Linked DNA regions of Homo sapiens. The protein of the gene in region 2 interacts with the protein of the main gene of each other region in a pairwise test. Each region holds a gene or a part of one and is shown on either strand. Other genes may lie near its edges.

Evidence for each region.
Region 1: the proteins of NIF3L1 (region 2) and SYT17 interact in binary tests that used the Homo sapiens proteins (3 or more experiments, as listed by UniProt).
Region 3: the proteins of NIF3L1 (region 2) and DMC1 interact in binary tests that used the Homo sapiens proteins (3 or more experiments, as listed by UniProt).
Region 4: the proteins of NIF3L1 (region 2) and TXN interact in binary tests that used the Homo sapiens proteins (3 or more experiments, as listed by UniProt).

The regions. Positions count from the first base shown.
Region 1 is NC_000016.10:19,262,228-19,268,848, reverse strand, and holds the end of SYT17 (synaptotagmin-17), read right to left. Parts: intron 1,970-6,621; coding exon 1,773-1,969; 3' UTR 517-1,772; downstream 1-516. UniProt on the Homo sapiens protein: Plays a role in dendrite formation by melanocytes.
Region 2 is NC_000002.12:200,892,371-200,899,398, reverse strand, and holds part of NIF3L1 (NIF3-like protein 1), read right to left. Parts: coding exon 7,020-7,028; intron 6,154-7,019; coding exon 5,991-6,153; intron 4,136-5,990; coding exon 4,009-4,135; intron 2,324-4,008; coding exon 2,185-2,323; intron 15-2,184; coding exon 1-14. UniProt on the Homo sapiens protein: May function as a transcriptional corepressor through its interaction with COPS2, negatively regulating the expression of genes involved in neuronal differentiation.
Region 3 is NC_000022.11:38,567,166-38,574,655, forward strand, and holds the start of DMC1 (meiotic recombination protein DMC1/LIM15 homolog), read right to left. Parts: upstream 3,019-7,490; 5' UTR 2,878-3,018; intron 2,226-2,877; exon of another isoform or gene 1,910-2,225; intron 1,245-1,909; exon of another isoform or gene 1,125-1,244; 5' UTR 1,092-1,124; coding exon 1,041-1,091; intron 463-1,040; coding exon 418-462; intron 1-417. UniProt on the Homo sapiens protein: Participates in meiotic recombination, specifically in homologous strand assimilation, which is required for the resolution of meiotic double-strand breaks.
Region 4 is NC_000009.12:110,246,505-110,253,532, forward strand, and holds part of TXN (thioredoxin), read right to left. Parts: intron 4,959-7,028; coding exon 4,854-4,958; intron 4,376-4,853; coding exon 4,316-4,375; intron 1-4,315. UniProt on the Homo sapiens protein: Participates in various redox reactions through the reversible oxidation of its active center dithiol to a disulfide and catalyzes dithiol-disulfide exchange reactions.

The DNA.
Region 1 (6,621 bases), on a different chromosome or scaffold from region 2:
ACTGGAATAATTGGCATTAGTACACTGCTCAAGTCAGACAGACATATTGCAAATACTCAACATTCTTGACCCCCAAAATCTATCAGTATAATAAATATCATTGTTTTGAAGCTGGGTGCAGTGGCTCATGCCTGTAATTCCAGCACTTTGGGAGGCTGAGGCTGAGGCAGGTGGATCACTTGAGGCCAGGAGTTCAATTCCAGCCTGGCCAACATGGTGAAACTCTGTCTCTACTAAAAATACAAAAATTAGCCAGGGGTGGTGGTGCACACCTGTAATCCCAGCCACTCGGGAGGCTGAGGCAGGAGAATTGCTTGAATGCAGGAGGCAGAGGTTGCAGTGAGCAGAGACTGCACCACTACCCTCCAGCCTGGACAACAGAGTGAGACTTTGTCTCAAAAAAAAAAAAATCATTGTTTTGACTTGTTCAGTATGGTTTGTTACACAGCAGTACTAGCTGCAATGCCCTCCCACCTTCTATGTCCTGTGTTCATGAAGAAAAAGATAACTCGAATGCATGGCACAAATAAATAATCTTTAATTTCAATAAATAGCTCCCCATCACACCAGACATTATGCTGTGGAAAAAGATACAGAAGCATCCAACAGAGAGAGAGGAAAGAGAGAGAGAGAAAGAGAGAGAGAGAGAGATCTATTCTAACTACACTAATTCCTTAGCACGAGAGACGTGACATTCGTTCACAGAAAAACACAGAAAGATCCTCAGAGTATGATTAAGGAAGAAGATCATCATGGATGGGGTGTGATAGCCATTTTAATCCATATATCAAGTCTTTGTATGTCTTTCGTGGGTCACAATCACCATGATTCGGTCAAAAAATGTTACTTTTGCTCTATCATATCCTATTTACTTTACACACACACACACACACACACACACACACACACACTACTTTTATCCAAAGTGGGATCTCTGACAGACAGGAGGACACTGGTTGGACTCTCACTGGACAGGAGAGGCAGAGAGAAGGCAGTGCTCAGGGCTGAGGTCCTGGCCCATCGCCATGCTCTCCAAGAGGACACATAGGCACACACGTGTTCGCCTGTGAGGGCACATGCACGAGGACATACACATACATACCCACAGGGCGTTCCCTGGGATGAGCTAACACAAGAACAATTCTGTTAAGCCAGGAAAGGCTTCTGACACTGGAATAGTTTTGGTTGCCATTTGGTTTCTCCAAATGGCCCATAATCTAGTTATCACATTTACTACGGAGAAGACAAAGATACTTACACCTTTGGAGAAAGGTATCAGGTTTGAAGAACCCCAGGGAACAGCAGCCTGTTCAGAAGTTACCCAGTAGGTGTGTGTTTCGGAAGTGGGGGGTGTTCAAGTCTCCCACACACTGGCCAAACTCTTGGTAAATTTAGTCTTGATGGAGCTTGGCACCCTTTGGGAGGTCCTTTCTCTGGCCTGAGGGTTGAAAGTGCATTTTGGGGCAGGAGTATTGACAAGAGCAGGCACTGCCAATAAGTCCCACGGCAGAGCCCACTGAGCTTGTGATCTATGGATGGGGCTTCCGGAAAGTTCCTAGGCCTCACTCAACTGAGGGCGGCCATTTTGTGATCAATAGTCAGCTTCCTCTCAGTTCTGAGAGGATTTGGGGTATCTGTGTGTCTGTGTGTGTGGACGTGTGTAGACATGTTGCGAGTGTGTATGCAGGTGTGGATGTAATAGTATGTGACACATTTTTTTCCGTCTTTTTTTTTTTTTTTTAAACAAATGAAAGCTGCCTTCCCTGCAGCCCTCAGGTCACCTCCAGGGAGGCAGGAGACACGCGGTCACACTCAGCTCGGGACCTCAGGCTATGCCACTGCTCCACGGCTGTGCGGTGCGTGTTGAGCATGCGCCTCCAGTGGTTGGTCTCAGAGGGGCCTGAAGAGTACTGGCCAATGACGATCCTCCCGATGAAGTCATTGCTGCTCTTCATGTTGTGGCCGAAAACTAGGGAGCCAGAGGGTTGAGGGCAGGAGGGAGGCAAGAGGAAGGAGGGGAACAGAACAGGAAGGCAGGGAGAAGACAAGAGGCCATTAGTCTACACATTTGTCAACTGCAAACATGGGGGTCATCGTTTAGGGCACGCTGTCTTTTTCCTTTTCTTGGTGAGAAGTCCAACTCCCTCATCTCATCCTCCTGTGAGTCTCTGCAACAGCTGCACCTGGTTTCCTGCCATCCCATGCCAGCCAGATTCTTACCTCTCAGCCTTGGCATTGGCTGTTCCTTCTGCCAGACAGCTGCACCGCCTGCAATATGCAGCCTTAAACGTATGTCCCACGGCATCACCACACTGCATATAGAGCTCTGTAAGTGGATAGTTCTAGTGGAACAGTGAGCCTGTCAATGTAGTCCAGTTGAGCGATTAAACCAGGGTTTCTCAATCATGGAACTGTTGACATTATGGGCGGGATAATCCTTTGCCGTAACTGTCCTGTGGACTGTAGGAAGTTTAGCAGCATCCCGGGTACCTACGTACTAGAAGCTGGTAGCAGCTCTCTCTACAGCTGTGACAACCCCAAATGTCTTCGGACATGGCCAAATGGCCCCTGCGGAGGCCAATGCATCCCAAACGGGAACCACTAGGTTAAGCCATGGGCCATGGGACCAAATATCCTGGGAGTGAATCCTGGCTCTATCATTTGACCAAGCTCTGTGTCTCTGAGGCAGGCGAAGTAACCTCTCTGAGCCTCAGTTTCTTTATTAGTTAAACAGGAATTTTAGTAGTGCTTCTCTCATAGGTCAATGTGCAATTTCTATGAAATAATGTGTGTAAAGCTCTCAGCACACAGTGCCAAGCAGGTGGTAAGAGCTCAACAAATGTTATACTGCTATTTTGAGCCTAAATTTCTGTCTGTTGACCTTTTATAAAAGAGACTTCATGTTTCCTCTGTTCCATCAAATGCTGGAAATTTTCTGAGAGTAATGGCTACGGCAACTTCTTCCACCCCTTGTTGTGCTGCATGTCTCTTTGAAAGGCTTCTCTGTTAATCCCAACTTCAGCTTAATTTGTGTCTTTCAAGCCTAATGAGACGGTTAACTTGATTTATCTTCCCGGCCAAGTTCCGCCTAATTCTTGATCTGTGTGTGGGTAGTCCAGGCATGCCATCTCACTAATGGGAAAGCAGGCTATGCCTGTGTTATAAATGAAGGGCTACAGAATGGGAAATATCACAGATTCACCCAGCGTGAGCCGAGCAAAGGCAGGCTAGATCCCAGGAGGGATGCTGAATATCATATAAAGCAACTAAAATATGCTGCCAAAAACAGAGCTTGAATGCTAATGAGCCTCTGTTCTCCCCTGTGGGTTTCACACCACGAATTCCAAATGATGAAAATGAGGGAGAAAAAAGAAAAATGGAAAAATAAAAACAAAAACTCCATCCATCGTCCAAAAGCCAAAAAGACTTAGGGAAAACTAGGCTACGTGAAATACTATGTCATCTTCAGCAAGAGGGATGGGTACCTGTCAGCTCTGTGGAGAAAAATTGGACCATGTATATTTTTTGTACATTTGGTAACATGCTCAGTATGCATAGGTGGACCTCATTTACATGCAAATTACTTACAAAGAGAAATAATAGGAATGGAAGCTTTGCTTAATAAATGAAATTGCTAAGGAGCTCTCTGCATTTGAAAAAATAATTGAACAGGTAACACTCAAGGCTTTTAGGAATGACACTTAGTGGGCAGTGTAAGGTTTGATCTCACCAAATGAGGACAAGTTACCAGAGTCCCCTTCCCTGTGAGCCTCAAATCTAAAATAAGATACTATTATGAGACCACTTCAGGCCCCATTTAGTTTTCTTCTTTGGGGGCAAAATGTTCTATCTTCTTCTTCCTCTCCAAAGCTCAAGAATGACAATGCAGAAACTTCCCTTCTAAATGGGTATGGGTTCTACTTCTTTGTGAAAGGGCTTTAAGAAAGGAAATTCTGACTGGGCACGGTGGCTCGCATCTGTAATCCCAGCACTTTGGGAGGCTGAGGCAGGTGGATCGCTTGAGCCCAGGAGTCTGAGACTAGTCTGGGCAACATGGAAAAACCCTGCCTTTACTAAAAAATACAAAAAATCAGCCAGACATAGTGGTGTGTGCCTGTAGTCCCAGCTACTCAGGAGGCTGAGGTGGGAGGATCACCTGAGTCCAGGGAAGTCAAGGCTGCAGTGATGGTGCCACTGCACTGGCTCTAGCCTGGGTAGCAAAGTGACCTTGCTTGTCTCAAAAAAAAAAAAAGGTGGGGGAAATCTCAGTCTCACGTACTCTCATGTGCCGCTGGTGGAAAAGCAAGTTGGTTCAAATTTTGGGGTGGTTCACAGCATCTGTTCAAAATAAATATGTCATAACTCATGACTCAGCAATTTCACTTCTAGGAATTGATCCCATAGAATTTTCTGCACAAATGGACAAAAATACACATACAAGGATATTTTATATAGCAGGAATGGGCAAACTAGAGCCTCCCAGTCAAATATGGACTACTACCTGTTTTTGTAAATAAAGTTTTATTGGAACACAGTCAAACCCATTTGTTTACATAATGCTGCTTTTGTGCAAAAAGGGCAGAGTTGATGTCTTAGTCCATTCAGGCCGCTGTAACAAAATGCCATAAACTGGGTGGCTTATAAACAACAAAAACTTATTGCTCACAGTTCTGGAGGCTGGGAAGTTCAAGATCAAGCCACTGGCAAATTCGGTGTCTGGTGAGAAGCTGCTTCCTCATAGGTGGTATCTTCTCACTGAGTCCCCACATGGTGGAAGGGACAGGCTAGTTCTCTGGGGCATCTTCTATAAGGGCACTAATCCCAATTATGAGGGCTCCAACCTTCATGACCTAATCATCTCCCAAAGGTCCCGCCTCCTAATGCCATCACTTTGTGGGTTAGGAATTCAACATACAAATTTGGCAGGGTGGGGGACAACTATTCAGACCACAGCAGCTGAATAATTTGGAGGCCATGTGGCTCTCAAAGCCTCACATATCTGCTATCTGTCTGGTTCATCCATGTTGTAGTGCTACTTTTTATGGCCAGCTAACGTTCCATTGTATGGATATGCCATGTTTTGCTTATCTGTTCATCAGATGATGGACATTTGGGTTGTTTCCACATTTTGACTATTATTATGGATAATGCTACTGTAAACATTTATGTCCAAGTTTTTTTTTTCTTTTCTTTTTTTTTTTTTTTTTTGAGTTGTAATTTCACTGTTGTCACCCAGGCTGGGATGCAGTGGCGTGATCTCGGCTCACTGCAACCTCTGCCTCCCGGGCTCAAGTGATTCTCCTGCCTCAGACTCCCAAGTAGCTGGGTACAGGTGCCCACCACCATGCCTGGCTAATTTTTGTATTTTTAGTAGAGACAGGGTTTTGCCACATTGGGCAGGCTGGTCTTGAACTCCTGACCTCAGGTGATCTGCCCACCTCGGCCTTCCAAAATGCTGGGATTACAGGCATAAGTCACCATGGCTGGCCTATGTACCAAGTTTTTAAGGTCATATATTATGATCCATTTATATGAAATGTCCAGAATAGGCAGATCTTTAGAGACAGAAATTACCATTAGTGGTTATCAAGGATAGAGGAAAGAGGGAATGGGGTGTGATAGCTAATTGGCACAGGGCTCCTTTTTGGGGTGATAAAAATGTTCTGGAATTAGATAGTGGTGTTGGTTGCACAATCTTGAAAATATACTAAAAAGCACTGAATCGTATACACCAAAAGGGTGAGTTTTAAGTTATGTGAATTTTATCTCAATTAAACAAATTGCCAAAAGGGAATACAAAAAAAAAAAAAAGATTATCTGACTCCTTATAGAAAAGTTTGCTGACCCCTGCACCAGGGCATTGTTTATAAGAATGAAAAACGGGAAATGGCAAGACTGTCCCTGAGGGAGTGTAGCTGGGGCTGTTGGTGCCCTGCCTACCCCTCAGCCCACCTTGGAGGCTACTCATGGTTTCTATAGATAGTGTCCTTCCTCAAGCACCTGCAGCTTCCTGCCTGAGCCATGCCAGCTTGTCTGTGCTAACTGTGATTTATGGTGAGGACCTTGGGCCACTCAACATTAGCTGGACCTCTGCAAGCTACCTCTGCAAGGAGGCTCAGCTACCCAGATGGTCAGCCATGACTATATGACCAACGTCCTCTAACTATGCTGGACACCAAGGCTCAGGTGAGTCTTCTTGGGTGGCAATACCCTAAGTGTGTTGTCACACATCCTTGCAAGGAGAATTAGGCACTGCTCGTATAACTCCAGTTGAGGAGAACAACTGGAAGCTTGCATCTGGTCTCTCTTGGACTTTTTCCTATGACAAAGAGGACTCTTTCCCCTTTCTTAGTCTGCTGGGCTGCTATAACAAATTACCATAAACAGGGAGGCTTATAAACAACAGGAATTTATTTCCTAATGGTTCCAGAAGCTAGGAAGTCCCAGATCAAGGTACCAGCAGATTCAGTGTCTGGTGAGGGCTTGCTCTCCTTCATAGGTGGTGCCTTCTCATGCAATAGAAGCAGCAAGACAGTTCTCTTGGGTTTCTGTTATAAGGGCACCAACCCCATTCATGAGGACAGAGCCTTCATGGTCTAATCACCTCCCACATGGGGATTA
Region 2 (7,028 bases):
TTTGACTTGAGACTCTTCAAAACAGAGGAAACAAGAGACCAATACTTTACAATTCCCTTTCATTTTACTATTATAATTTGTACCAAGAATCCTAAACATAATACAGATTTCACTCCTGGTCTCATCACCAGTATATGAATTGTTCTTACTGCATTTTAAAAAAAACATGTTTTAATATAAGCAAACAGGTCATTCTTTGATATTGCATAGCTAACCCAAGGCATGGTTATTATTCCTTTGTTGTGTTTTTTTTTTTCAACAACCTTTGTAAATTGCGCAAAATACGGAACAATGCACAAATTTGCGTGTAATCTTTGCATAGGGGCCATGCTAATCTATATCATCCAATTTTTAGTATATGTGCTGCTGAAGGGGGCACCGTTATTCCTTTGGACATGGCTGCACAAACTCACAAACCACTGAATAGTACTAATGGTGCAGCTCTAGGCTGTATTGCAACAGTGCTAGGTAAAATAATCTCACCTGGGTCTTCAGACAACAGTGAGAGGTAAGCAAGTACTATCTCTATTCTCAGGTGAGGAAGCTAAGGAACTAAAAGGACTATAAAAAGAGGAATGCTACAAATGGATTTGGCACTATTTTTAAATATACTATTTATTCTCAAAAAGCATCCTCTGGAAAGTGAAATAACAGCAACTTTCGAGCCAAAATCCAAGTATTTAGCACTTGGGTTTCTAAAATGAACACTTTAGTGGACACTCCAGTTCAGCAGCAGGGTATCTCAAAGAGGGGGCTTTGGAGTTATTTTGGAAGTCAAATCCCACCTCTGCTATCCATTTTCTTTGGACACTAACTCCCTTGGGTTGTTTGATCTAACTGGACTTTTAGATAAGTTACTGATATGGTTTGGCTCTGTGTCCCCATCCAAATCTCACCTTGAATATAATCCCCATAATTCCCACGGGTCAAGGGCGGGACCAGGTGGAGGTAATTGGATCATGGGGGCAGTTCCCCCATGCTGTTCTTGTGATAATGCGTGAGTCTCACGAGATCTGATGGTTTCATAAGCATCTGGCATTTCTCTTGCTTGCACTCATTCTCTCTCCTGCCACCCTGAGAAGAGGTGCCTTCCAACATGATTGTAAGTTTCCTGTGGCCTCCCCAGCCATGCAGAACTGTGAGTCAATTAAACCTCTTTTCTTTATAAATTACCTAGTCTCAGGTATTTCTTCATAGCAGCGTGAGAACGAACTAATAAAGTTACTTATCTCTCTGAACCACAATTGTTCACCTATAAAATGGGAGAAATAGTACCAACCACAAAACTAACAACAGCTAGCACTTTATACTTAATGTGAGCCAATCACTGTGCCATGTCACATGGATTATACTACCACCTTCTGAGTTAGGTTTTATTAATGCAGTTTTTACAGATGAGGCTACTGTGACACAGAGGGCATAAACTTGTCAAAGACATGCAGCAAACAGGACAGACAAATCTGAAGCCAGGTTGTCTAAGCTCAGAATCCACACCTATAACCGCTGTACCCCACTGCTTTTGCCAGCAGGAGCTCACGTACTTAGGACAGACAATCAGTACAGTGCTAGGCTCACTGAAGGTGTTGAACAAATGTCTGTTCACTCTTTTTGTTCTCAAAAGTACCAGGAAAGGCCAGAAGAAAAAACTACAAGACTTAGAAACTACAATGGATCAGATCACTCAGTAGCACCTCACTAGAAAATATTACCAGTCTTATAAGTGCAAAGTTTATGTTGTAATTGTAGCAATCATGATTCCAGCTCTCTTCCTGACACATGGTAAGACTGCACTTTATGCCTCCCTTGCTTGTATTGGGCAACATGACTAATTCTGGAAAATGAGTTGAGCAGAAATTAACATGTTTCCTGGAATTTTAAACTGATGGTTTAAGACCCTGCAAAACTCCCTCCCTCTGCAACAGCAACCAGTCTACAATGGTCAGACTTCCTACAATGACCAACTTGAAATGAACACATAGCATGACAGAGAAATAAATCTCATTGATTAAGTCAATGAGATGTATTCCACATCAGAACCTGGCCCACCCTAATCAATAACGTAAACCAATTATCTCCTATGAGCTGCTAACACATTCTCTATCACATATTAATACAACCAAGAGTTTCGATCTTTGTCCAATGTTAACAGTAGGCATACTGGATAGATGAAGGAGCTATATTTACCTAAGGTTCTCCCCACCCCAAGGGCTAAGCGAATATGAGATAGTTTTAGGTGTCTTTTTATTCGATCAATCATGGTTGCCAGGGAGACAGATTCATCCAGTGTGCATAACCGTCCCATTCCAGTATGTAGAAGCAAAGGCTGAGGAGAAACAGAAGTTAGAAACGGTGTGCATTGTTAGTCCTAAAACAACAAATGCTAAAATCATCAACATGCACACTGTGAGATTACTATAGCAAGCTCCAGGCTAAATGTGGGGATACAAACCTGACAAAATCATTCTTCTAGGAGTTCACAGTTTTCTAGGAAGGCAGATGTTTAAATCAATAATCAGGCCAGGCGCGATGGCTCATGCCTATAATCCTAGCACTTTGGGAGGCTGTGGTGGGTGGATTGTTTGAGCTCGGGAGTTTGAGACCAGCCTGGGCAACATAGTGAGACCTCATCTCCACAAAAAAATCCAAAAATTAGCCAGGCAGTGGCGTGCGCCTGCAGTCCCAGCTACTTGGGAGGCTGAATGGGAGGTGGGCTTGAGCTACCCAGGAGACAGAGGTTGTGGTGAGCTGAGATTGTACCACTGCACTCTAGCCTGGGGACAGAGCCAGACCCTGTCTCAAATAAACAAAATAATAAAACTGTTTAAATACAAGGTAGGTGCTACAGTTGCAGCAGCACAAAGAATGACAAACTAAATGAGCTGTGACTTAGGAGGCTTGGGGAGTACTTGGAGGAAGGACTTAGGTCTTAGAGAAAACCCTAAAAGAGTTAAAAAGGGGGAAATAAAGAGTTTAAAAAGGGGTGATGTCAAGTGCAGTGTGGCAGGACAGAGGTACGATGAGATGGAGAAAGGCATTCTAAACACAGAGGACATGGACAAAGGTGCCAAAAACTTGAGAGAACACACTATGGGGGCAGATCCAAAAGAAGACAGTATGGCTACTGTGCAGAGTACATGCTGTGGAAGGAGAGGAGGCTGGAGGCCCAGGCTGTAGCAGATCATTAAGGGCTTCCAACACCATGCTAAAGAGCCTGGACTGCCTCCTAGGTGCTCGGTGAGACTACTCTCATCGCAGAAAATGAGAGTTTCAACTACTGTGGTGGCAGAGCCAATACAGAGGAGAAACACTGTATAGATATGAGGCCAGACTCAGCAGGGCCTGGAGTCAAGGAGGAATGTGAAAACTTGGAAACTAAAGTAGATAATGATACTGAAATATGAAATATGGAAAAAAAAAAAAGCGGGGGTGGCAAACGGATAAAGTATTTGGATATACTGAATTTGAAATACTTGTGGGCTCTGTAAGTGCAAAACATCCAGAAAGTAGATGAAAATATGGGTTCTTGTCATTTTTTCCCTTAAGAAAGCATTCTAAGCCAAAAAGTAAAGATAGAAATCATCATACAAATGGCTATCAAGTTAAAGAAGTGAATGACATGGTCCAGGCAGAGCGTGTAAAATAAGGAGACAGCAAACCTGTAACCAAATCTGTAACCCTGAAGACGTACCAATATTTTCCTGTTCCTGGAATGTCTCCCTTTCTCAATTACTTCCTAGAGAATATTATGCTCTCATTGCCATTTTGTACTTTAGATAACAGTGAATGGCCTGTTGATCTAATAATTTACAAATGAATTTGCTGAAGAAAAATGCAAAGTAATGATATTCATCAAATTGTACACATCAAATATGTACAATTCTTAGTATATCAATTATACCTCAATAAGGTATACCTCAATATACCTAAGTATATCAATTATACCTCAATTATACTGTTAGAAAATGTGTGCACAGTATTTTAAGATCAAATACAAAATATTCTTATTACCTTCTCCAGTGACAGAATTTCCGTCTTCTGATAAAGTTGTTTGTTCCGGGAAAGAAAATCTACCACCTGCATCAAAGCCTTCTGAGTACAATTCAGATTAATCCGTGTTTGTTCCTCATTACCAGTCCTAGGGGGGAAAAATCACTCCATTTAGGACAAATATAGCCAAAATGTATTTTAGATAATCCACAGTTTACAAACCTACTATAATAGATTAGATTTATGTGGAACCAAGGATTTAACCAACAGAACCCATTTAATCTGAAACTAATCCATTTTCTAGAATAGCATTTCTCTAACTCTACTGGGCATCAGAATCACCTGGAGGATTATTAAAACACAGAGTGCTGGGCCCCACCCCTGGAGTTTCTGATTCATTATATCTAGGTGGGGGTCTGAGAGGTTACCTTTCTAACAAGTTCCAGGTGATGCTGATGTTGCTGGTCCAAGGACCTCACTTTGAAACCACTGTTCAAGAACTGTTCTCAATCCCGATTGTGCATCAGAAATTTCTTGGCCAGGTGCAGTGGCTCACATCTGTAATCTCAGCATTCTGGGAGGCCAAGGTGGGCGGGTCACTTGAGCCCAGGAGTTCAACACCAGCCTGGGCAACATAGCAGGACCCTATCTTATTATTTTTTTAATTATTAAAAAATTAAAGTTAAAAAAAAAAAAAAAAAGAAGGCCAGGCACAGTGGCTCACACCTGTAATCCCAGCATTTTGGGAGGCCAAGGTAGGTGGATTACCTGAGATCAGGAGTTCAAGACCAGCCTGTCCAACATGATGAAACCCCATCTCCACCAAAAATACAAAAAAAATTAGCCGGGCGTGGTGGGGGGCGGGTGCCTGTAGTCCCAGCTACTGGGGAGGCTGAGGCAGGAGAATCACTTGGACCTGGGAGGCGGAGGTTACAGTGAGCCAAGATCACACCACTGCACTCCAACCTGGGCAACAGAGTGAGACTCTGTCTCAAAAAAATAAAAAAAATTCCTTCTAGCTTCTTAAAATAACAGCTGCTGGATCCTTCCACAGAACCAGTGAACAGAACATCTACAAATGGGGCTGGGGCAAAATGAATTTTTTTAAAGCCTTAGAGATGATAATTTTAAAACATCATTGAATTTGAGAATGTCCTGGACAGATTCTCAGGCAAACTCCATTCTAATTATAAGGTCTGAGGTGAATACAAAAATCTGCATTTTTTTTTTTTTTTTTTGAGACAGAGTCTCTCTCTGTCTCCCAGGCTGGAGTGCAGTGGCGCGATCTCGGCTCACTGCAACCTCCGCCTCTCGGGTTCAAGTGATTCTCCTGCCTCAGCCTCCTGAGTAGCTGGGATTACAGGCATGCGCCACTACGCCCAGCTAATTTTGTATTTTTAGTAGAGACGAGGTTTCTCCATGTTAGTCAGGCTGGTCTCAAACTCCTGACCTCAGGTGATCCACCAGCCTTGGCCTCCCAAAGTGCTGGGATTACAGGTGTGAGCCACCGTGCCCAGCCTGGGAGTCTCTTAAAACAAACAAAAAAAGACTATTCAGAAAAATATTTCCCATGATGTTAAATAAAAAGACTGATTTATGAAAATATATATTTAAAATGTAAAGATAAATATAAAAAAGCACTTGGGAATCACTGATTTGCTGGGAACCAATAAAAGCCTTATCACCACATCACTAGGATCTATCTGTATTCTCTAAAGTAAAAACAACTATCTTTGAACATTACCAGGATTAGAAATACTGTAGGTAAAATGCATAGTATAGTCCCCTGACATAGAAAATACTTAGTGTTACTTACCGTTTTTATTGTTTTGAAAAAATTCCATAGTTCTCCAGGACCCACAAACAAATGAGGAGTATGCTACTTTGTAAATCAACTCCAGAGAAAACTATTTGTTTCAAGCCTAAATACCAGGGTTATAGACTTTGTAAGGAAGATGCTTACCAATAAATACACACAAAAAAAAGAGAAAAATAAATTGTACCTAGCAGAAAAAGAAGTGACAGAAACACCGTCAATTCCTTTCACTGCAGACATGACTTTGTCCAGGTCTTGGGTGTAGTTAACGTTGAATTCTACTCGGTGGTTTCCCTCTGTAGGGTAGTTGGGAGCTTTGGAAGGATGTATGGGCCTGGAGGTACAAGCTCCTAGAGAAAATATTGTGGGAAAATGGGAGTTTTGGGGGGTGAGAGATTAAGATTTAAAAGTAAACTATTATAGGCAAAATTTCTAAGAAATGACTTTTTAAAAAGATTCATTCTCATGCTTACATAACATACACACATCCCTTAGATATACATCACCAGTCCCCATAATCTAGGGCTTTGGCATGGACATACAAAATCAAATTATTTTCAGAATTATTTTCCAAAAGATTCTTAAATCTCTGAAAAACTTGGACAAGAAAGACTGATTCATACATTTTCAGATAATACACAGAATGGTCTACTGCTTGGTAAATCTAGCCATGTAAACCATCATTCAGGTTGCAAATGCTCATACTTTATTTGACCACATTAATCCAGATATCATCATAAAAGCTTTAGCCCAAAATGAGTAAACTAAAGACTTACTAAAATAAAGCTAAAATCCATCCATCATTCCCTCATTGTGCTAGGCATAAGTAAACATTCACTAAAAACATTCATTAAAACCCTGATGTCTATTTACTTGACTTATCAATCAAGTGTATTCTGGAGAGGCCTGAGCTTTCAATTCAACAAGCATTTTCCAAGTGCCTGGGTGACAGGCATTGTGCCACAAAAGTGAGGAATCATGAAGCTCAGTCCAGTAAGGAAGACTTCTGCTCTCCTTACTCCATAAGAATAAAAAATGTTTCCTTTTTCAAATGCAATTTAACTGCCAAATTTCAGCAACATTATTTTAAAATTATTATATAAAAATGGAATCATGCCCTCCCCAACCCTAAAGCAGTTAAAACTTTACTGGAAAGACATCCTAAAGTTTCAAAGTATTTGCAGGGAAAATATCAAATATGAAAGAGGCTTCTCACCAAGCCCTT
Region 3 (7,490 bases), on a different chromosome or scaffold from region 2:
ACCAGGATTTTCTCTTGCTTCTATTTTCTAAAACCACTGAAAGAGATTAAATGTTAGGGCTACAACAGATAATGTCAGCACAGTTTTACTATCAACTGATTGCTGTTGAAATCCACCCAGGTCATTATTCAAAGGCTGGATTTCTGCCAACATCATTTATTCCAGTCGCCTGACATATAGAACTTAATTTTGTCCTCTGGATACACTTGACAATGTCTGGAGACATTTTGATTGTCACAGCTGCAGGGGTGCTACTGACATGCAGTGAGTGAGTAGAGGCCAAGGATGTTGCAAACACCCTACAATGCACAGGACGTCCCCTTGCAACAAAGAATTATCCAGGCCCAAATGTCCATAAGGTTGATGCTGAGAAATCCTGAATCAGACAATTTAACACAGCATTGAAAAACTACTTACAATTCCATGTTTCTGTAACAGGTCAATATCTTGAAACAAAGATTCCTAAAGGAGATGAAACAGAAAAAATGAAGTTTTGATTCTTCATATCCAGCTATTTCACATCTTTTAAAGAGGTAATTCAATACTATGAGTCACTCCAAAATGCCTCAAATTCCGCTTCTCTAGAGATTGAGGAAGGATCAATACCGTTTTTCAAACACAGAAGAAGCACCAACATTGAAAGGGCTGGGAAGCCAGTTACCTTTGTCATGTCCTCCCTAAAATTTTAAAACCTTTACCCAAAGGACTGGAACAACATTTGAACTATTTTAAATATGTTTTCTCAACCCTCTTCCCCTCCAGATCCTAAACTCCTTCCTCTAGGACCAGGCTGCTATTCGGTACCCGTGTGTGTAGGTACCAGTATGGCCATACCAGCTGTTAAGTCATTAAAATACTTTCATACCAGTTGCTAAGTAGCTAATCTTAGCATCCTTGCCAAACAAGTTGTTACATATTTGCAATATATAACTATGTGTTATTTCTACTTTCAGCTTCTAAAAATAGTAGCTAACAGGGAAGGAACTTGATTTTTGCGGAATGATCGAATGTCTATATATCTTTCAACATTTTAGTCATACCTCTTCATCTTGGAATCCTGGTTCTTCCGCCACAACTTGATCCTCCTTCATATTGAAAAGTGGGCAACAGAAAAATAATCACTTCTGGGAAAATAAGAAATATTATGTAAGAAGTAGTCCTTTGTCCAGGGGCCTCTGATTTCATTTCAAAGTCAACAAGGACTAGAAGGACAGTAAGAGAAGCATTTAGCTTGGAAAGATGAGGCCAGCCTATCTTCTTTCTGCGAGACATGTGACATTATTTCTTGTGTGTGTGTGTGTGTGTGTGCATGTGTGTGTGTGTCCCCACATGCACACAGATGCCTGAGGGGCAAATTGGGGGGTGCTTATTTAGTTTCTTCTCTTTCCCCAACAGTGATCACTTATCATCTGGTTTCCATTGCACAGCTAATCATGACTTTATTACTGCCTTGAATGTTATTTAGAATTGCATATTGCTTTTAACCTTTCTTGTTTATGTTTAACAACAATACTCTAGGAACCTTGACATTATATCATTCTTCCTTGTGTCCTCCCTGACACCTCCAACTTTGTCCTCAATAAATGGATTCTATTTTTCTCATCTATGATGAATGCCTTCCTGCCTGCTGATTATGAATGGGTACTCCTGTAACATCCACCTTTTTGTTTCATAGAACATTAGCTATACTTTCTTTCACAGTATTTACTAGTTTCATGATTTTTTTAAGATTTAAAAATATGGTGGTCCGGGTGTGGAGGCTCATGCCTGTAATCCCAGCACTTTGGGAGGCCGAGACAGGCAGATCACGAGGTCAGGAGTTCGAGACCAGCCTGGCCAATCCCCGTCTCTACTAAAAATACAAAAAAATTAGCCGGGCGTGGTGGTGGGCGCCCGTAATCCCACCTACTTGGGAGGCTGAGGCAGGAGAATCGCTTGAACCTGGGAGGCGGAGGTTGCACTGAGCCGAGATCATGCCACTGCACTCCAGCCTGGGCGACAGTGCGAGACTCAGTCTCAAAAAAAAAAAAAAAAATTGGTGGATCATAATATTATATTAAGGCTGATAAGCAGTTAAAGTTTTTAACATTGTAGACTCAAAAAGAAATCTCAGGAATCCACAAGGCGTGATTGTGTTTATTTATTACAATAAAATGCGGTCCAAATCATCATTTTTCTTGGTCGATTCCATTTCCTCATTTGATACCAAAGTCAGGGGTTGGACCCTAGAACAAAGGGAACGAACCATTAATACTAAGGCAGGAGCAGGGTCCTACCACCCAGCACCTCAAACGGCAAAGGATGGAAGGCAACCGAGACCGTTCGGATGGGATCTTCGGGGACACTGTCCTTCAGATGGCTAGCTATGAGTACCCCAATTCCACATTTACTGTCCCCATCGAAGAGAAAAACAGCATTCATTTCTTCTCCCCGTGATGAAATGAAAAGATTGTCCCCCATCTCTCAAGGAGCCGTTGATAGACTGAACCGTTGGATTGAAAGTAGGGCTCCCCAATCCCCCGGTTTAAGACGACCCAGCTGTCCCCTCTGGTGGGGGCAGCAGCGCGGTCGGGTCGCCCTCGACGCCTCCCTCAGCAGGAGGCCTGGGCAGACCCCCTGCGGCCGCCGGACATTTTCCTGACACCGGATTCCCTGGTCAGGAGGATGAGGCGGGCTCTCCTAGACTCAGGTCCGATTCGATTGAAAATGAGGTTGGAAATCCCTCAAGATCACTAAAATTCCTCCCCAAAGGTCGGAGCGGAACGCTCAAAGTCACTAGCCCAGGGACCCCAAAAAAGGAGCGAGAAAGGGAAGCGCGCCTTCTCAAAACGAGCGTCCCCTCAGAGTCTTCGCACGCTGTTCGTTTTTGCCACTTACCCCCCTCGTACCCACAGTCTCCCCGAGATTTTCAAGGTGAAGCCCCTCTGCCCCGCCCGACCTCCTCAGCTGACAGGATTCTAACTCGGGCCTAGAACACGGAGCCTGGAGACCCGCGCGCCGTTGACCACAGGGTTTGGCGCCAAACGAGGAGGGCGGGGCGAGGACCAAGGGGCCGGGGCGGGGCGCAGGGTGAGGGTGGAAGGGCGGGGAGGGAGCAGGCCTACAGAGGGCGACGAGGGGCGGGGAGCAATGGGGGCGGGGCGAAGACCGAAGGGCGGGGAACGAGCGGGCTCACAGGTGGGGGGACCAGAGGGCGTGGCCTGGAGGGGGCTCAGGGCGAGGGGGCGGGGCGAGGGCTGAGGCGCGGAAAACGAAGAGGAGCCCCAGCGGGTGGCGAGCTGGGATGACGGAGGGAGGGAGGGAGGGGCGCTGTGGAAGGAGCGCGCTGAGGAGCGGGGCCTTGAAGGGAGACCGTTGAGCTGGGGCGTCCCTCGAGCTGAGCACCTCGCTAAAGTCCGGGAGAAGACCCTGAGGCGGGGTTCTGAGGAGGTAGCCTTGAGTCGGGGGAGGGGCGATGAGCAGAGGTGGCTGACTTTGGCGATAGGTCTTGGTCGCGAGGGTTGCAGATGGAGCCTTGGCTTAGAAGGTCGAATCCGGGCCCGTTTCCCCCCGCCCCCGCTGCCCATGGCTTCTCTTTTCACCTCCAGGTTTTCATGCTGGCTTCAGAGTTTGGCCGTGCTCCCTCAGCGTTCCTAATTTCCCACTTTCTGACTCTCACCATTTGCCACTCTTGTCTGTGATTGAGACACCCGAGGCCCATTCAGGATGGAGAGTAATTTTTTCTCTGTCTTAACTTGAAGTTTTAAATAGACCACAGACGCCAAGTATATTTTGGTTCAGCTTTTAAATAGAAGTCGCAGGCCAGCCTTCGTGCCAGCAGCGCCATCGCTGGCAGCATCCTCCTCCTCCCCTCACGCGGAGACTGACTTGGGGAGAGTCAGGAAACATTTGAGAGAGCAGCTGCCGAGGTGGAGGCTGTGATGTATCTTGGATGAATCTCTGTGCAAACAGTTCTTTGGGTTCAAGACCTAGTACAGGGCGATCCTTTTTGTTTTTTCTGTCTGAATCATTTTGGTGGAATAAATAGCAAAACATTCCCACAATAGCAGTTGGCATTTTGTGTAGGACGCACCCCCCCAACAGGTGGATTGTTTTAAGAGCCAACAAATAACTGCCATTGTGCTTCCAAATCTGTTATTTTCCCCCAAACACAGTCGTCCTTGTTATATGGAGATGAATGCCCATTTGGGGGAGGAACTGGATAGTGGTGAAAGGCTTTCGCTCTGAGGCCTCACCTAAATAATTATGGGAACTTTTGAGCAACTCGTTAGGTGAAGACATCAACAGTCTACAGAAGAGCTGCAAAGAGCACAGCAAGATGATTTAGGGAAATATAACATATGTAGTTTGGTGTAGTGACAGCTGGGAGAGAGAAATGTTCATAATATTTGAAGGTTGTGTGCAGTACACTTAAAAAAACTAAAATGAGCTGGGTAATGACAAATTCATGAAGGGAGGAGAAAAATCTTATCTGGGTATCATATCGATGGTTAGAGACAACTTTTAAGATATTTAAAACAACAACAAACTCTAGGACAGTTAAAAAGTGCACATGAAGACTTTCCACTAAAATCGGAACCAAAAAAATTGTCTTTCGTATCATACAAAAACTCTGAATATCATGAAGGTGGCATTTCACATCAGTGGAGAAATGATGAATTCAGTGAATAGTGTTAGAACAACTAGGTAACCATCTGGAAGAAAAATAAAATTGGAACCACACTTTACACATTATACCAAAATAAATTCCAGACAGATCAAAAAATTAAATCTGAACAATAAAATAATAAAAGTACTAGAAGAAAATATGGGATATTTAAAATTACTTTGTAATAAGAAACATCTTTTTAAGTATGCTACAAAACTCAGAAGCCATGAAAGATTGTTAAGTATGCTTATATTTAAAAAAATATATCCTGCATGGCAAAATGGTACTTTCCTATCCACAATATAGAACATGGCAAACCAGAGCTTTTGTGTCAATTATTAACTGGATAATATAGCTTGCCTAATTTTTCAAATCCTTCAGGAAGTCCACAATTTCTCTACACAATTTTAAAATTTTGTGTCTTTTTATGATATTTTTAGAAATAAAAAAATAGGCAGTGGGATTATAGTTAAGACCTGAATTTTAAACTATTACACTTTACTGCCCCTCCGTGGACAGTCACCTTATAACCAAATAGAGGCACAGGATTCCAGCGCGTATAGTTGGGCTTCTACAAAGTGATGCTTGCTGATACATATTCTTGAAATTTCAAGAGCTTGAATTTGAGAAATGCTTTAGTAGAGAACTAAAGAATGAAGGCTCATCACGTACAAATTTCACTGGGTAGAATTCCCCTTAAAAATATTTGTTTGTTTTGTTTTGCTTTTTGTTTTTGAGTCAGGGTCTCCCTCTGTCACCCAGGCTAGAGTACAGTGGTAAGTAAGATCTTGGCTCACAGCAGCCTCAATCTCCCGGGCTCAAGCGATCCTCCCACCTCAGCCTCCTGAGTAGCTGGCACTACAGGCACAAGCCACCACACCCAGCTAATTTTTTGGTATTTTTTTTGTAGAGATGTGATTTCACCATGTTGCCCTGGTCTCAAACTTCTGGGCTCAAGTGATCCTCCCATCTCAGCCTCCCAGAGTGCTGGGCTTACAGGCGTGAGCCACTGCATCCAGCAGTGTTCCATTTCTTTATCTCCAATTTCAAATAATTTCCCTTTAAGAATAAGGTACTTGTAGCCTATTGCTGAGACCTGTACCTCTTAGTGGCTCTTCCCCTGGCTACATAAAGGTTTAAAATGACTGCTGTTTGTAAAGAGTCGATTAAAATTTTAACCTAGGGTCTTACATTATTCACCTCCAGTTACAAGAAGGAATACGGGGTACCATAGGAACACATGGGAGGGACATCTTATTCAGTTTGTGGGTAAGTGGGGAACATGGCATTTAGAGGCTGACACCCATGAGTAATTCATTAGTCAGGTAATAAGAGGGAACCAGTACTAACTTAAGAGAGTGCATTTAGCTGGAGCTCAATACTTATTTGTAGAATGAATGACTAGTAAAACACCTCTTACATTCGCCAAACTTTCTCTTTTTTTCTCAGTATTCTAGTTCCATCAATCTTGTCATGCTTTTTTTCTTACACTTCTAGTTTATATAGACATTTCAAATACTGTGTTTCTTGCCTCAGCAGAGGGAATATTCTGAAAGATACTAATTCTGCAGTGTGTGGATTTGCATTAACCTAAAGGGGTTTAGTATAGATTTACTGGAAAGAAAAAAAATCTGTAGGATTATGAACCAAAAAATAAAAAACCAAAGTTCCCATCTTTATTCAAAGCATTGATTAGCAAAAATAAAAGGCAAAAGTTGTATATATTTTTGCATATCTACTTCTTTCTTTCTTTTTTTTTTTTTTGAGGCAGAGTCTCACTCTGTCACCAGCCTGGAGTGCAGTAGCGTGATCTCAGTTCACTGCAACCTCTGACTCCCTCGTTCAAGCGATTCTCCTGACTCAGCCTCCTGAGTAGCTGGGATTACAGGCACATGCCACCACATCCAGCTAATTTTTGTATTTTTTGTAGAGACAGGGTTTCACCATGTTGGCCAGGATGGTCTTGATCTCCTGACCTCGTGATCTGCCCACCTCGGCCTCCCAAAGTGCTGGGTTTACAGGTGTGAGCCACCACACCTGGCCGCATATCTGTTTATTTCTGATCCTACTTTTCAGTCACCTAATAAGCATTTTTCCATGTCTTAAGCATAATTTTAAATGATTGCATAATATTCCATTGAATGTATTATTAACAAATTCCCTGTTATTGGACATTACTAATTAGTGTCAGCATCTTTTTGCATTGTTTGTTTTTTAGGATTACTTTTATTTATTTATAATAAAAAAATAGAGATGGGGTCTCGCTACGTTGCCAAGGCTGGTCTTGAACTCCTGGGCTCAAGCAATCCTCTCACATTGGCCTCCCAAAGTGCTGGGATTACAAGCATGAGCCACTGCACCCGGCTGAGGATCACTTTTCTTAGGGTAGATTTCTGGATTTATAATCATTGATTGAAAGGCTGTGGACAATTTTAAGGCTATTGATAAATATTTAAAGCTCATGGAAATATTTGGTTGTACTAGTTTCCATTTTCTAGTTTCCATTTACCAGCAGAGAAAGAGTTGGTTATTTCATAGCTGTCACAGAGCTTACAGTCTAGTAGGAAAGATAGATTTTATACAAAGAACTATATAAGCAGAATTGTGAAAAATGCATTAAGGGAAAAATAGTGTGCACTGTGCTAAGCACACAGATAGAAAGGTGACTAAGTCTCTGCTGTGGAAAGCAACAGTGCTTGGGAGAGGCAGACCGATAAACAGGTTGTTCCTTTAAAAAAATTGTTTTAGGCCAGTTGCAGTAGCTCACGCATGGAATCCCAGCACTTCAGGAGGCCAAGGCAGGCGGATCACGAGGTCAGGAGTTCGAGACCATCCTGGCCAA
Region 4 (7,028 bases), on a different chromosome or scaffold from region 2:
CTCAAAAGAGGACTGGGAAAGAAATATAGAACCACTCAGCACCTAAGCAGCAAAAGCTACACAGGACAGCAAGCGAGCAGGCAGGACTGTTGATAACCAAATCACGGAAACCAACGGAGAATTCTCAAGGGGAAGAAAGGCCAGCTACAAACACTATGACGACCTCTAGGATGGTGGGTGGCACTACTGTTGAGGAGTTCTTTCTAGGTAATCTTTACTTTTTCTTTTAATGCTGGACACCTGCTGAGCATGAAAGTACAGGTTCCAGTAAGAGGCACAAGGACAGTAATGGCTGGAATAAAAATGGTGAATGTTTATTGAATGCATACTATTGAAAACTCACTCCAAGTAAGGGTCAGAGGGAGGTTACCATTTATAAAATAAGTATCATAACCCTGTTGGCTGTCAGAGAAATAAGGTTGGTCTATCATTTTCAAAAGGGCTACTACTCATACTTTTCTATCAATCTATGGAGGCAAAGTTAAAGTTCCTCAGTTTGTCAGAGGGTCACTTCAAGGTTTTAAAAGACACTTTCAGGCCAGGCACGGTAGCTCATGCCTCTAATCCCAGCACTTTGGGAGGCCAAGACGGGTGGATCACTTGAGGTGAGGAGTTCGAGACCAGCCTGGCCAACATGGCAAAATGCTGTCTCTACTAAAAAGTTGAAATTTAGCCTGGTGTGGTAGCGGCTGCCTGTAGTCCCAGCTACTCAGGAGGCTGAGGCAGAAGAATCGCTTGAACCCGGGAGGTGGAGGTTGCAGTGAGCAGAGATGGTACCACTGCACTCCAGCCTGGGTGACAGAGTGAGACTCTGTCTCAAAAAAAAAAAAAAAAAAGATACATTCAGGGTGATCAGGGTGCACCAAGCAGACATGAAGGAGGAGCTCTGTCATACGGAAGTCCTCGAGTGCTTTGCACACCTATAGTAATGCACCATATAACATTTAGATCGACAACAGATTGCATATATGTGGTGGTCCCATAAGATTATAATGAAGTTGAAAAATTCCTCTCACCTAGTGATGGGTTAATGTCATAGCCCATCGCATTAGCTGGTGCAAACAAATCTGCGCTGCAATTACATACAAAGTATACCACTACAGACTGCTTTACCTGCGGAATAGCCATTCTTTTGTTCCTTTACTTTCTTAATAAACTTGCTTTCACTTAAAAAAGCATATCACTACAATTATGGACAGTATATACTACTTGATAATAAACACCCACGTTACTGGTTTTTGTATTTACTTTAATTTCATTATTAATTTAGAGTGTACTCCTACTTATTTTTTTAAAAAGACAGTTACTATACAACAGGCTCAGGCAGGCCCTTCAGGAAGCATTCCAGGAGAAGGCACTGTTATCATAGGAGATGAAAGGTCCATGCATGTTACTGTCCCTGAAGACCTTTCTGTGAGACAAGATGTGGGGATGGGAGACAGTGATACTGATGATCCTGACCCTGTGTTGGTCTAGGCTAATGTATGTGTTTGAATCTTAGTTTGTAACAAAAAGTTTAAAAAGTCTTTTTAAAAAAAGCTTATAGACTAAGGATATAAAGAAAATATTTTTGTAGAGCTGTACAATGCATTCGTGTTTTAAGCTAAGTGTTATTACAAGAGTTAAAGAGTTAAAAAAATAAAAAAACTATAAAGTAAAAAAGTTACAATAAATTTATTGCTGAAAAAAGAAATTTTAAAAATAAAATTTGTAAGCATACAGTGTTTATAACGTCTACAGGTTCTAGGCCTTCACATTCACTCACCACCCACTCACTGACTCGCCCAGAGCACCTCTCAGTCCTGCAAGTCCCGTTTATGGCAAGTACCTTATAAAGGCATACCATTTTTTAATCTTTCATATCATGTTTTCACCATACCTTTTCTATGTTTAGATACACAAATACTTACTGTTGTGTTATAACTGCCTACAGTATTCAGTACAGTAACATGCCTTACCTGTTTGTGGCCTAGGAGCAACAGGCTTTACCACATAGCCTAGGTGTACAGGAGGCTATGCCATCTAGGTTGTGTAAGTACACTCTATGTGTGCACAACAAAATTGCCTAACATTTCTCAGAAAGTATCCTCATCATTAAGTGATGCATGACTGTACTTCCTAAAGGCAGTAAGAAGACCTGTCCTCAGTACAGTATGGTGCATTGGTCTGCCTCAAGAGACTGACTTTACCTTCTGTGCTGCAGTGCCATTACCTGTTCAATGAGGGTGCTAATAAAAAATACTCGTATAGTTATCGTGAGGATTAAATGACATAGTGCATGCAAAGGGCTTATCATGGCATCTGGCACCTATTATTGCTTTCAAATAAAAATCAAGGCCGGGCGTGGTGGATAATCCCAGCACTTTGGGAGGCCGAGGTGGGTGGATCACCTGAAGTCAGGAGTTCGAGACCAGCCTGACCAACATGGTGAAACCCCGTCTCTACTGGGGTTTTAATTTTGTAAAAATACAAAATTAGCCAGGCATGGTGGTGCATGCCTGTAATCCCAGCTACCCAGGAGGCTGAGACAGAGGATTGCTTAAACCCGGGAGGCAGAGGTTGCAGTGAGCCGAGATCATGCCACTGCACTCCACCCCAGGTGACAGAGTGAACTCCATCTCAAAAAAAAAAAAAAAAAAAAAAAAAAAAAAAAAATCAAGTTGCTATCTGATAGGATCAGTGGCAGTTAGAATTTCTCTATTCCAGGTGCAATTTTCCCCTAGCTAAATTGACCTTAATAAGACTAAGTTTGATTAAAACAAGGGATAAGGATTTTTCACAAAAATGCAATTACACTCTTTTTAAAAAAAAAAAAACAACTCTGGGACACATCTAGAATAGTAACTTAACAACCATATCACATTCATCATTCATTCATTCCACACCTATACTACATGCAAGGCAGGTGTGCTAGGTGAAGGGGCAACCAACGTGAATTAAGACAGGGTCTCTGATCCTAGGAATCTACTGAGACTAATGGTAAAGGACAGACATAAAGATCATTATAATAATTGCCAAGATTCACTGGGTACTTAGGGCACACAAGGCGGTAAGTGGAGAAGGGGTGAAGCTCATGACAAGGAGTTAGTCAGGTAGGAAAGGAAAGGACAGGCCAGATGGAGAAGACAGCACAAGCCAAGGCAGGGGTTGCCCAAGGCACAGAGTCAAAAACTGGCTAAGAATACACAATCTGGGGTTGTTGCGCCCTCCCATGTTTAGAGAGCACTGCCATATGCCTGTTTTAAGTGACCCTTCACCCTTTATTGGATATTCCATGTTTGCTCAATGAATAAGCAACCTTGGGAGGTTGATGGGGCAGGTCTTAAGGCTCAAGGAAGAGGAGTGACTGGCCTAAGCAGATGCTAGTGAGCCAGGACTGGAAGCCAGGTCCAGCGCCTCTGTTGCCACACTGCACCCTTCCCCCATCGCCTTTCCTTCTCCACTAGGGCTAAGTGAAAATGCTCACATATCTGTAAAGGGCCCCGAAGTGATACCTCCTCAACCCGCTCTCCTAGGTCTGTGGTCATGTGCTAAGCACCCGATCTACACCCACAAGACAGAGCATCCTCCGATGGGTAGTGCTTAAGGTCAAGGGCTGGGAAGCCAGACCACTTCATTTTAAATCCTAGTTCAGCCACATACTCACTGAAACTTCATGAACAACCTCTGTGTTTCAGTTTTCTCATCTATAAAATGGGGATGATAACAGCACTCAGGATTAAATGAACTGATACTTAAAAACCACCCAGAACAGTGCCTGGTATATACCTAGTGCAAAACAAGTATTTGTTAAATACAACCAACCCTGGAATTTCTTCCAAATTATTCTCTCAGGTACCTTGGTGTTTATTTGTTAAAACATTTGTGGTTTCTAATTGACTAAAATCAACCAAGACTAGAATAGGCTTGCAAATGCAGGTTCTCATGCTACTGCAAGTTCACAAAGAGCCCTACAAGCGGTCTCATAATTTGGTGACTCCATCAAGCCTATGGATGTAATGATCATAGCTAAATTCAATCTCCATTTATTGCACATCTCAGAGTGTAAAGTAGAATGTAGGGTTTTAGAAAGGTGGGTGGCCGATAAGATTCAGAAGTCTCACTCATTTATTTTTGTTTACTTTAGGATGTGATATACAGCTCCCGATAGCTAGGATTAAGCTCCTAACTTGCCTGCTCTTCTGAGATAGAACTTTTTAGATAGGATTACAGTTCTAGAATTATTTGACATATTTATGGAAAAAAGCACTGTGCAATTCAGAGAAAAAGGCCAATGTGAAAAGCTCAGCAGTATCTCATATTTCCAGCTACATACCTGACAGTCATCCACATCTACTTCAAGGAATATCACGTTGGAATACTTTTCAGAGAGGGACTGGAAAATTTAAAATGAAAAATCCAAAAAGATTTAGAACTAGGTAATGGCAATCAACATACCCAAGCTTCTTAAATGGAAACTTAATAAAAGTAGAGACTAATTAAAGATCCAAAAATTTAGATCTTTGGAGACATAGATCTAAGAGACATAAATTTTCTCTAAATCAAATTTTTCTTAGTATAAAACAGCTTGGCATATCAAATTCTGAGGCTGGGATTTCAAATAAGGCCCATGTTTCAATGTGGGGAAAAAAAGAACTATTTAAGACAAAATTAACTTCTAAAATTTGTTTTCAATGGGCTACATGTATCAAACCTAAATTATTTGTTATACTACTACTTTTAGACCAAAGATCCAGCCAAAGAAATCCCCCCACCGAAACCAAAATCCTTTAACTGTCTTTCTTTCCTACCACTGTGACCACCAACTCAAAAAACACAAATCTCTTACAAAGCAGACATTGTTTAATACTCACATGAAAGAAAGGCTTGATCATTTTGCAAGGCCCACACCACGTGGCTGAGAAGTCAACTACTACAAGTTTATCACCTGCAGCGTCCAAGGCTTCCTGAAAAGCAGTCTAACAGCAAAAGAAAAGCTTATATTAAATAAATAGTTAAATATTAAACCTTCAAAAGAAAGACTCGACACAATGACACAAAGCACATTCTGGAGGTCCTCCTTTCAGGACCTACTTTTTAGCCAAAAAAAAAAAAAAAAAAAAAAAAAAATCCCCAAACAAGCCAAATAAAACTCAGTTTGAAGAAATTCTATACATTGTTGGTAGTGTTACTTGATAAGATGAAACAAGATATGTGTAGAGTATACTGACATTCTCTTCATAACTATTTTATAAAATATTGTGAACTGGCTATTTTTTCTCTACACCAAACAAAAGGAAAATAAAAATAGACATTTGTATTAAAAATGTTTCCATGTCAAGGCTAGGTATATGGTAGACATTCATTAAACACTTATGGATTATGAAAGGGGTCACTTGAAGTCACAAAGGCATAGGATTTTGCAATTGAAACATCACAAGTTACTTAAAGATAAAAGTTGGCTGGGCATGGTGGCTCACACCTGTAATCTCAGCACTTTGGGAGGCCGAGGTGGGCGGATCACTAGGTCAGGAGTTCGAGACCAGCCTGGCCAATATGGTGAAATGCTGTCTCTACTAAAAATACAGAAACTAGCTGGGCGTGGTGGCATATGCCTGTAGTCCCAGCCACTCAGGAGGCTGAGGCAGGAGAATAGCTTGAACTCAGGAGGCGGAGGTTGCAGTGAGCCAAAATTGTGCCACTGCACTCCATCCTGGGCAATAGACGGAGACTCTGTCGCAAAAAAAAAAAAAAAAAAAAAAGCTATGACTTTTGATTAAACTCATTTGTCTATGGTGGACCATACGAAAATCTAAAATTTTTTGAAAAGTCAAGGAAACTCACCTTTCCCAAACCTCAACACTCAGACATCACCGTTGACATAAGCATAATGGGGTTTCCAGAGCTGAGATCACACGTTTACCAACCTTTGATTTTTGCCCTTTATTTTAAAACTATACCCTTGTCATTCATTAAATGAAAGTTTTCGTTCCTCATGAAGGAAATTTTTCATAGATATTATTTTTCATAAGGAATGCTTGTTAAATAAAATTCTCAGTAGAAATGATCAAGAAATCTCTTACCACTAACTTCCCTGAATTATTTACTATCTAGATACTGTAACCCTGGGAACCGAATATTCTAGTTACCAAGGACTCATTTTTGTTTTGTTTTGTTTTTGAGACGGAGTTTCACTTGTTGCCCAGGCTGGAGTGCAAAGGCCTGATCTCGGCTCACAGTAACCTTTGCCTCCGGGGTTCAAGTGATTCTCTTGCCTCAGCCTCCTGAGTAGCTGGGATTACAAGCCTCTGCCACCAGTCCCAGCTAATTTTTGTATTTTTAGTAGAGACAGAGTTTCGCCATGTTGACCAGGCTGGTCTTGAACTCCTGACCTGAAGTGATCCACCCGCCTTGGCCTCCCAAAACAAAGGACTCATTTTAACCACATTAGTACGTTAGTGCTGACCAAACCCAAAAACCAAACCAGAGCAATTAAGATAAATCAAAACATAAACATCTGTATCTGAAATCTAGGTTTTCTTCAAGGAAACAATGCTGGTCAAATAGGTTTAAAAAAAAATGAACATTCCCCGCCCCCCACCGCCACAAGAGGTCTCGTAAAGAAAGAAATCAAATAAATAAAAAACCATAAGATAAAAAACCAAATAAACAAAAAAAAACCCAACAAGAAAACACTAATATGACCTCATGTACTAATAGTTACTTCTCTAGATTTCTAATTTCTACCTCGTTTTTGGGAAAATAATTCACAAATGGTGTTCCTGAGAAAGGTAGGACAACACTTTCATAAATTTTTTAGTTATGCAAATCCCTGAACCCCACCTCTAGAGGTGGAGACATGGGGAGAGCTGCAGCAGGGTACATAGAAGTATAGCAATTGTTTTTCCAAATCATCACTTATTGTTCCAGATCAATTTCATTCAAAGCCTTCCCTAATGTGATTTTCAAGAAAGTTAAACCAGGCATCCTTTATTGCAAGATCCAGGTAAGACAGGAAAAAAGGTCAAGAAATGCCAATGTCTGGTTGA